Regions from separate parts of the Homo sapiens genome. Here region 2 is linked to region 1. Evidence: fine-mapped expression QTL. A gene starts in region 1. The other region holds a variant in brackets. All regions are shown on one strand. Distances are between the middles of the regions.

Region 1 (5,378 bases):
CGCTGTGCCTGGCCTTATTTATTTATTTTGAGTTGTCAGTCCATTTTACAGATGAAGATGCTGAGACTCGGAGAGGTCAAGAAACACGCTTCACATCCAGAAAGATGGTGGAGCTGGGATTCAAACCCAGGTGTGGGATTTTGGAATCTTAATTCCTTATGCTAAGGGAGGAGACCACCCCTCATATTGTCTTATGCCCAATTTCTGCCTCCAAAGAAAGAAAAAGTAAAAACTAAAAGGCAGAAATGAAATCCACAAGCAGACAGCCCAGCGCCACACCCTGGGCCTGGTAGTTAAAGATCGACCCCTGACCTAATCGGTTATGTTATCTATAGATTACAGACATTGTATAGAAATGCACTGTGAAAATCCCTTTCCTGTTTTGTTCCCACGTAATTACCGGTGCGTGCAGCCCCCAGTCACGTACCCCCTGCTTGCTCAATTGATCACGACCCTCTCACACGCACCCCCTTAGAGTTGTGAGCCCTTAAAAGGGACAGGAAATGCTCACTCGGGGAGCTCGGCTCTTGAGACAGGAGTCTTGCTGATGCCCCCGGCCGAATAAACCCCTTCCTTCTTTAACTTGGTGTCTGAGGAGTTTTGTCTGCGGCTCGTCCTGCTACAATGCCACATGGAATTCAAGTGCAGAGGGACACCTGGGATCTAGAGAGGGGGCATGATTGGCTGAAGGTCGCACAGGTTTCATGAGAAAAGCCAGGGCCCCTTCCCCTCTCCTGCCTCCCCCAACGCCCGTGGCTCCGGTAGGTCTGATGCCAGACTTTTCCTTGGCCAGGTCCTGCAGGGGGCGGGGCATCCCGGGCACGGGAAGCTTTCTATAAATGGAAGTGGAAGGGAGCCGGCCTCTGCGCTCCCGCCCTCCCGGGACAGCTGAGGACACAGAGCCGGAACCACGGCTTTTTCCACACAGGCTCCAAGTGGACTGGGTTTGTTGGGACAGGATCTGGGCGCTCCCTGCAGGGTTTTCTGGCTGTGTCCTGCAGAGGAGGCTGGGGCTGCTGACTTTGCAGAGCTCAAGGAGGGCTGGGTGTCCCCTCGCAACCAGGACCCAGTATACCTGCTTACTAATTTGGACACAGCTTTTGTGCCACGCTGGGCAAGCGTCCTTTCCTCTCTGGGCAGACCTCAGTTGTCCCATCTGTGTGATGGGGATGTGATAATAACAGACACTGAACACCTTGCATTTTCTCAACAGCTCTCTGAGGAGGGTGCTATTGCTGCAGGGCTGGAGAGGTTGAGGAATTTGCCCAAGGTCATACAACCCCAACTGTGAATTGGGGTTTAAACCCAGGTGGTCTTGCTCCACGGTCCCACACTTTTAGCCTCTGCTGCTGCTTCACATATTTAAGAACCCTGTCCACCGCTGCCCCTTCTGGGATTCTGGAACCAAGAGGGACAGACCTGGAGCTGAGCAAAGGGCAGGCAGCCCCTACGCTCCTCTTCAGCCTCCCCTCACTTTTAAGGCTCTGCGTCGCCCTTGGATGTACCAAGGCAGGGCTCCATCTTACTCCTGTATTCCTGAATGCTGCCCCCTTCGCGGCCCCGCACACTCCTCTAACTTGCTCTTTCTTGCTGTAAGTGGTGGGGAGAGTCCCTGGGCCCGGGGCTCTGTGTGGTTGGGAGGCACGGGGCGGGGGCAAGGAGGGCTCCAGCCACCTCTGCTCTATTTGTAGGTGCCCCCTACCCGCTCCCACTTCTGATTCTGACTCAGATCTCTTTCTTTGTTCCCAAGGACTCTGGGGAGTCCTGGTGCCTTGGCAAATCCCCTCTTCCGTGTCATTGCCAACCTCTTCTCCTGACTTACTCTCTCCCAATGAGCCCAGGTCAGTGAAGGGAGAGGGTGGGGCAAGGGTAAAGCCTGAGTCTCCCCCAAAGCACTTTGCCTCATTAGCCCAATCTCCACTGCACCCCCTATTTTTGAAAACTGGCTCCCGATCTTCCCATCCCTCCCACCCAGACCCGGTGACGCAGGACGTGGACCTCAGGCAGGGACCCATAGGACCAGTGAAGGCCAGCCGCCCCATCTCCCAGTCCTGTCTACCTCTGAAGTGCCCAGAGGGCTCCCAGAGCGCTGGGAGGCGAGAGGCCTGGGTTCTGTGTCCAGTCCCTTTCCATGACCTCAGGCAAGCCTCTTCTCTGTGGCCCTCAGCTCTCTCATCTATTTGCCGAGGGGCACAGGTTTAGTTCCCTTGAACTGCTGAACTCCGCGGTCTGTGATCCTGAGACCATCTCTGTCTCATCCACATCCTCCACCCCATTTCTCCCCACCTTCACTCTGAGCCCTGAGAAATGGAGAAGCTGAAGACAAAAGGTTAAATGAGGCTGGGCTCACGCCTGTAATTCCAGCACTTTGGGAGGCTAAGGTGGGAGGATCACCTGAGGTCAGGAGTTTGAGACCAGCCTGGCCAACATGGTGAAACCGCGTCTCTACTAAACATAAGAAAATTAGCCGGGCATGGTGGCAAACATCTGTAATCCCTGTTACTTGGGAGGCTGAGGCAGGAGAATCGCTTGAACCCTGGAGGCAGACGTTGGCAGTGAGCCGAGATCGCGCCACTGCACTCCAGCTTGGGTGACAGAGCAAGACTCCATCTCAAAAAAAAAAAAAAAAATGTTTAAATGAATCAGGGCCAGCAAAGGTGCTCCGTGTTCCTCTCTTCTTAAAGAATAAAGGCACCTACCTGGTGTCCACAGGTGGGCAGACTGTTGCCTTCACTACTGGCTCCTGGGACCAAGACGACTCAGAGTCCAGGTGAAGAGTCAGGAGAGGCGCCAGTTCACCTCCAGACCTGCCTTAAAAGCAGCTTGCCCGCCTTCTCTCCTCCCCTCCGGGCGGGCCCTGCACGTGGCCCTGACAGCAGTAGGCCCCACCCCTGCTGGATCCAGTGAGCTCAGGTGGGGCTGGCACAGGCAGCAGGAAGGGAAGCACTGGGTGGTGGGTTTTGGGTCTGGGTGTGTGTGAGGGGCTCCCAAGTTCCTGCTTGGGCTTCTCGTGGCACCACATGGCCAGGGAGTCCTTGCTTGGACAGGGCATAGCTAGAATCAAGGTGTGCAGTGGGCACTCCTCAGGTGCTGGCTGGGGCAGAGGCCATGGGTTGGCAGAGCTGGCAGAGAGTGAGGGCCTTGACAAAGCAGGATGCCAGTGGGCAGGAGACCCTCTGCAGTCCCCCTTTGTGCTGGGTCACACTGGGACAGGCACAGGGTAAGGGCCCACTGGAAGTAAGGCTAGGCACGAGCTTGTCTTTTCTTCTTTCTCTCCTTTTACAGTAATGACTCTAGCTTGGGATGGGGCCTCTAACTCAAGGAAAGGAGGCTGAAGTGTCTGGAGGGCTTTGAGAAGGGGCTTATAGCTGTTCCTTCACTCATGGGCTATCTCTGTCCCTCGTCTGGTCTGTGCCCCAGGGTGGAAGTTCCCTGAGGGGAGGACATTGGAGGGTGAGATCAGGAAGCCCAGAAGTCTGGTCTGGTAGCTCCTTCTCCATGGTTCCAACTCTCTCCCTGTTCTAGAGGGGCAGGGGTCCTAGAATGTTGTAAGGAGGTGTTCAGACATGGTGAGGGGAGGGTGCTGATGGCAGAGCCTGGTCTGGGAGCGGTCTGAAGTGAGGGAGCTGGCGAAGTCTCCAGCCCAGGGACTCATGGTGATCCCAGTAGGCTAATCTCAGGGGTGGGTTGCCCCATGCCCCCATTATGCCCAGTGGAAGGGCTTCTGGCCTTACAGTTTTTGATGCCCTGGGGTTTCACTGAGGCATGGTGAACTAGTGCATGGGAGGCCGGTGAGCAAAGCTATGGAAAGTTATATAAGGTGCCCCTTCCTGATGGTGACATAAAAGGTGTCCCTAGGTGTCCATGCAGCCTTGTTGGCACATGGCTTGATGAGCAATTATGTCTTTGGATGAAAAATGTGGTGCTCCTGCCCTGGAGTGGATGTCACTGCACATGGCGGCTTCCCCCATGAGGCTGTGGCTCATGATTGTGGGAGAGTGGGAGGGGCGACTCGTGAGTTTCTTGAGTGGAAGGGGCAGGTTACAGTAGGGCGAAGTGTTGGGCAGAGACTGTGGCAACTCCGGGGTAACCCTGGCCATCTCCCCTGGGGCTGGTATGGATAGCCTCTGCAGTGGTTCTTCAGGGCCAGGGGGTCCTCCAGCCTTACAGACCCATACCTGGGGGTTATGGTCTTTCTTGGCAGATTGGCTCTTTTGTTTCACACCCAGCTGCTTCCTTTAGCTTAAGATGGTCTCAGAACAGTGATTTCAGCCCCAGCTGCCTCACAAACCCTGCCCAACACCACATCACTGCCCTTTGCCGTGATCATCAAGGGATGGATGGAGTGGCATTTCTTTATACATCTATAGATATGACATTTTTTCTTTAGCCTATGGATGTGATAGATTACATTAATTTACTTTTGAATTTTGAACCCTCCTTGCATACCTGGGATGAACCCCCTGGTCATGGTATATAATTCTTTTTTTTTTTGTGATGGGGTCTTGCTATGTTGCCCAGGCTGGTCTCAACCTCCCGGACTCAAGTGATCTTCCCACTTCAGACTTTGGAGTAGCTGGGATTACAGACATGTACCACTATGCCTGGGTCTGTATAATTCTTCTAATACATTGTTGGGTTCAATTTGCTAACATTTTGTGGAGGATTTTTGCATCTATGTTCATGAGTGATATTGGTGTCTAGTTTTCTTTTGTATCTCTGGTTTCAGCAATGCTGGCCTCATAAAATGAGTTGGGAAGTGTTCCTTCTGCTTCTATCTTCTGAAAGAGGTTGTAGAGAAGTGGTCCTATTTCTTCCTCAAATGTTTGGTAGATTTCACCAGTAAAACTGTCTGGTCCTGGTGCTTTCTGTTTTGGAAGGTTATTAATTATTAATTCAATTCTTTGCTAGATATAAGCCTATTCACAGCATTTCTTTTCAACCTCAAAATACACTATTTCCCTAGTTGACGGGGGCACCTTGTCCTACATCTACTCTTCTGAAAGAAGGGATTCCAAGTAGATTAAAAAAAAAAAGTCCAGCCTATATTTTGATGTATTCTGCATGTCTCTCACTAAGGGAGAGGGAAAATCAATTAAAGAAACCAAGAAATGGCCGGGTGCAGTGGCTCACGCCTGTAATCCCAGCACTTTGGGAGGCCGAGGTGGGTGGATCACGAGGTCAGGAGATCGAGATCATCCTGGCTAACACAGTGAAACCCCGTCTCTATTAAAATACAAAAAATGAGCCGGGCGTGGTGGCGGGTGCCTGCAGTCCCAGCTACTCGGGAGGCTGAGGCAGGAGAATGGCGTGAACCCAGGAGGCAGAGCTTGCAGTGAGCCGAGATCGCACCGCTGCACTCCAGCCTGGGTGACAGA
Region 2 (5,378 bases), 690 kb after region 1:
TACACATGATGGAGTCATTCTCGTCCCGTTTGTTCCTTCATTTAAAACACACGGCCGGGCGCGGTGGCTCACGCCTGTAATCCCAGCACTTTGGGAGGCCGAGACGGGCGGATCACGAGGTCAGGAGATCGAGACCATCCTGGCTAACACGGTGAAACCCCGTCTCTACTAAAAATACAAAAATTAGCCGGGCATGGTGGCGCGCGCCTGTAGTCCCAGCTACACGGGAGGCTGAGGCAGGAGAATGGCGTGAACCCGGGAGGCGGAGCTTGCAGTGAGTCGAGATCGCGCCACTGCACTCCAGCCTGGGCGACAGAGCGAAACTCCGTCTCAAAAAAAAAAAAAAAAACACACACAACGGTGTTTGTATTTTCAAACTGCAATTCAAAGCAAAATATTTTAGTTGTCTGACTAACTGCTTTTAAACTTTTCTTTGCACCACTAAGCGTAAACATCATGTACCCAGGGATGTTTGTACTTAGGGCCATCAACAGATGTGGAGCTCAGCATGGAAAAGATTACGACAATTACAATTGAGCCCAGTCCCCTGTTTCAGGAATTGAGATACCCAAGTGGAGTTGCTATTACTATTAGAATTACTGTCATTGAATCTGTGTTTGTGTGACACAGATGAAAAGTTTGATAAAAAATACATTTTAACGGAAAATATTTTAAAATATGGTTTACATTTGTCACCTTGAGTTAATCACCATGTTCTAGTGCTGGAGGGGAAAATGTAGGTGGTGACAATAGTTCTGGCCTCTTCAAGTTAGTTTCAGTTGTCAGGGGATCAGTCAATGTACTCTGTCTTAAAGAATGATAATTCAGGCGAGGCACAGTGGCTCATGCCCGTAATCCCATCACTCTGGGAGGCTGAGGTAGGAGGATCGCTTAAGTCCAGAAGTTCAAGGCCACAATGAGCTATGATCGCGCCACTGCACACTAGCCTGAGTGACAGGTGAAACCTTGTCTCTAAGATAATAATAGCAGTAAAATAATAAATAAAAATATATACTTTATAGTTAAATGATGCTATTGATGTTGATCACCTCTCTCACTTCTGGATATAAGTTTTTATGGGTTATCTATTGTTAAGTAGAACAATCATTTATTTTCAGAAGATTCATAACACTTAAGGAACACTTCGTCCCTGGGCAATTCCCTATAGGTTATGAAAAATAATGTCATAAATAATAACCAGGAAAATTCTGCTCATTGGTTCCAGATTTGGGAACCAGTGTATAAAAGGTCCAGATACTAGAAGGGGGTCATCAGATTCTTGGAAACTCACCTCTGAACAGGAGCCCACCCTTCACCCCTGACACCATGACCCACTGCTGTTCCCCTTGCTGTCAGCCTACATGCTGCAGGACCACCTGCTGCAGGACAACCTGCTGGAAGCCCACCACTGTGACCACCTGCAGCAGCACACCCTGTTGCCAGCCCTCCTGCTGTGTGCCCAGCTGCTGCCAGCCTTGCTGCCACCCAACTTGCTGTCAAAACACCTGCTGCAGGACCACCTGCTGCCAGCCCACTTGTGTGGCCAGCTGCTGCCAGCCTTCCTGCTGCAGCACACCCTGCTGCCAGCCCACCTGCTGTGGGTCCAGCTGCTGTGGCCAAACCAGCTGTGGGTCCAGCTGCTGTCAGCCTATTTGTGGGTCCAGTTGCTGTCAGCCTTGCTGTCACCCGACTTGCTATCAAACTATCTGCTTCAGGACCACCTGCTGCCAGCCTACCTGCTGCCAGCCCACCTGCTGCAGGAACACCTCTTGCCAGCCCACCTGCTGTGGGTCCAGCTGCTGCCAGCCTTGCTGCCACCCAACATGCTGTCAAACCATTTGTAGATCCACCTGCTGCCAACCATCCTGTGTGACCAGATGCTGCAGCACACCCTGTTGCCAGCCAACCTGTGGTGGGTCCAGCTGCTGTAGCCAAACCTGCAATGAGTCCAGCTATTGTCTGCCTTGCTGCCGTCCCACCTGCTGCCAGACCACCTGCTACAGGACCACCTGTTGCCGCCCCAGCTGTTGCTGCAGTCCTTGCTGTGTCTCCAGCTGCTGCCAGCCTTCCTGCTGCTAATCCACTTGCTGCAGACCCACCACCCACCAGAGACATATTTCCTGAAACATTTTGTCAAAGTTCCTATTCCACCAAGAAACATTCGCTAAGCTTTTCTGAGAAACAACATTCTGACACTGAACTTTGTGATCATCTTCTTCCTACCATGCTTGGGATTCTGCTGAAGGTTTGCAGTCTACCTCACTTTCATTCTTCTTCATTCCCTCTGTGTTAATGTACCAGATGGTGGTCAGTCAACTCCACCTAATTGACATGGATACATGGACTCAGCCACAGAAAGTGGTCATCAGCTTTTGCCCCTATGGAACTTAAAAAAAAATTCTTAAGACTGCATATCTAACTCTCTATAATGATCAATACTGATCATCTTTTTAGATATATACATTTTATTTAGTAGCCTCTGCCAGATTACTAAACTCTTTCATGATCACTTTTAATTGTCTCCCTACCTGGTCTTTCCTAATAAAATTTATATTATCCTGCATCCTATGGTATGATTTTTGTTCCATTTGTTTGTTTGTTTGCAGCAGTTGCTTTGTGAAGCCTTACTTTTGAGTTGTGGTTTATATTTATTATCTTGTTCAAGTCTCACAATGACCTACAAGTTGGACAGAGCAAACATTTTAGTGATGAGAAAATGATTTGCCATACAACTAGCAATTGACAAGGGAAGGTTCAATGACCAGGTACTTTGAATCCAGGTTAAGGACACTTTTTTAAAAACATTTTTCTCCGGGTAGATGCAACAGTGGTGATTGAGTGCAGGGAAGATGTACATTTTAAGTCACATCTCAAGCAAACACTTTTCTATCTACAAAGCACTTCCCAAATACTCTCCCCACCTCTATGACCACTAGAGACCATCTTTAAGAGTTCTAGGAATGCTTTTACACTCTTGGTGGGAGTGTGAATTAGTTCAACCATTGTGGACAACAGTGTGGCTATTCCTCAAGGATCTAGAACCAGAAATGCCATTTGACCAAGCAATCCCATTACTGGGTATATACCCAAAGGATTATAAATCATTCTACTATAAAGACACCTGCACATGTATGTTTATTGCAGCATTATTTACAATAGCAAAGACTTGGAACCAACCTAAATGTCTGTCAGTGATAGACTGGATAAAGAAAATGTGTCACATATACACCAT[G/A]GAATACTATGCAGCCATAAAAAGATTGAGATTATGTCCTTTGCAGAGACATGGATGAAGCTGGAAGCCATCATTTCAGCAAACTAACATAGAAACAGAAAAACAAAACACTGCATGTTCTCGCTTATAAGTGGGAGTTGAACTGTGAGAATACATGGACACAGGAAGGGGACCATCACACACCAGGGCCTGTCGGGGGATGGGGGGCAAGGGGAGGGAGAGCATTGAGACAAATACCTAATGCATGCGGGGCTTAAAACCTAGATGACAGGTTGTTAGGTGCAGCAAACCACCATGGTACATGTATACCTATGTAACAAACCTGCACATTCTGCACGTGTAACCCAGAACTTAGAGTAAAATAAAAAATAAAAATAAATAAAACTTTTTAAAAAGTGTTCTAGTCCATGAAAAGAGCTTTGTGTCTCTGGATTCTGATCCACCACTGAAGAATCTGTCACCAACAACTAGTGTGACATGGGTTTTCCCGGCCCTACTCTCACCACGAAGAACCTCCTCTTTGCTGTCATGATTAAGCATCTGGGTATCATTTCATTTATTTTAACAGGAATTAGGATTAAGAATCACTTTTGCAAAGCGCACAAGATTGGACCATGCTTCCTGGGTTCCCAAATTTTGAGGCAATTTTGTTTCCTAACATGAACTTTGTTAAGGGAAGATAAATTTGTACAGAATCCTAAGAATTAAGGTAACCATGCAATGGACTTATGCCCTTTGATCTAATCATAATCTCTGGGCCATAAAAGAAAACAAAATAACTCCCTGTGTTTTATGAGATAAAGAAGATAAAGTCAATTATGCTAAAGGAAGTCAAAATCAGAATTTTCAGAAAAAAAGGGAGAAATGTTAGAAACATGAAAATGGGAACAAATGATGCACTATTTAAAGCCAAGATGGGCATTAAGTTGGTTCCTAAATGGAGGAAACTGGATCTTCTGATGAGAAACTGAATAAGGAAAGGAATAGCCAGAGGACGCAGCAGTACGAAGGCTAATTCAGCTTTGGGAGGACACTAAGAGGTTTTGACTGTGGCCACCTTCTTTTTAATTATTATTATTATTTTTTAATTTTAATTTATATATTTTTATATTTTTTTATTATACTGTAAGTTCTAGGGTACATGTGCACATCGTGCAGGTTTGTTACATATGTATACATGTGCCATGTTGGTTTGCTGCACCGATTAACTCATCATTTACATTAGGTATATCTCCTAATGCTATCTCTACCCGCTCCCCCCACCCCACAACTGTGGCCACCTTCTTAAGAGACCTGAAGGTGCTTTGGGTGAGCGAACTACTAGATGTGACAGAGACATGTCATCTTCCTAGGGGATGTATCTGGAATTCTCTGCCGGGTTATTAACTTTCCAACAGGGGGAATGAATGGGTAATTTGCTGACATTTACTGAGAGCCTGCTATACACTAGGTATTGAGGTAGTTGCTCCATGCGCCCTCTGTCTCATTCCCAGGCAATCCCAAAGGTAAGTATTAGTGGCCCCATGTTCAAGCTGAGGAAGTCAGTGTTGAAGAAGTTAAAGCAACTCATATGTGTTGCATAAATGATACAACATTTTTCTGCTTTCCAAAACAAAGCTGTTTGGGGGAAGTACTGGTGAAATGAGAGATATAGATCAATGGAAAATATTGAGAGACAAGAAAGAGATTCACATATATATTATCAATTGATTTTTTGACAAGATGCCAAGTGGATATACAGATAATCTGTGGTCTTTTGAATAAACAGTGCTGGAACAATTAAACATCCATGAGCAAAAAGAAAAAAAAATAGAACTTTGATTTATACATTACATATATACAAAAATAAGCTCAAAATGGATCACAGGCCAAAGTGTAAAACCTAAAACTACAAAACTTTTAGAAGGAAACATAGAAAAAAGTTTTAGGACTGTAGATTAGGTGAAGATTTCTTAGATGAATACATAACTCCCTCAAAAAGTGGGCAAAGGATATGAACAGACACTTCTCAAAAAAAGACATTTATGCAGCCAATAAACATATGAAAAACAGCTCAACATCACTGATCATTAGATAATGCAAATCAAAACCACAATGAGATACCATCTCATGTCACTCTGAATGGCGATCATTAGAAAGTTAAGAA

Direction of the effects. Alleles are on the strand shown, and positions count from the first base shown. SD is a standard deviation of normalised expression in the study named.
As copies of G replace A in region 2, the expression in monocytes of the gene that starts at base 2,789 in region 1 goes up (moderate effect, 0.68 SD a copy in CEDAR).

Evidence for each region. PIP is the estimated chance that this variant, and not a neighbour inherited with it, causes the effect. A credible set is the group of variants that fine-mapping cannot tell apart.
Region 2: its variant is the best candidate, but not a certain one, in a credible set for the expression of TNS4 in monocytes (CEDAR, PIP 0.73).

What each region holds. Positions count from the first base shown.
Region 1 is chr17:40,498,835-40,504,212 of GRCh38, forward strand. TNS4 (tensin 4) reads right to left here and starts at 2,789. Exons shown (of 13, transcript NM_032865.6): 1 at 2,700-2,789. RefSeq lists an enhancer at 331-1,202.
Region 2 is chr17:41,188,561-41,193,938 of GRCh38, forward strand. It overlaps KRTAP9-1 (keratin associated protein 9-1), which reads left to right and starts at 1,327. Exons shown (of 1, transcript NM_001190460.1): 1 at 1,327-2,079. The coding sequence starts at 1,327. The coding sequence ends at 2,079. The variant G/A (reference allele first, on the strand shown) is at 3,233.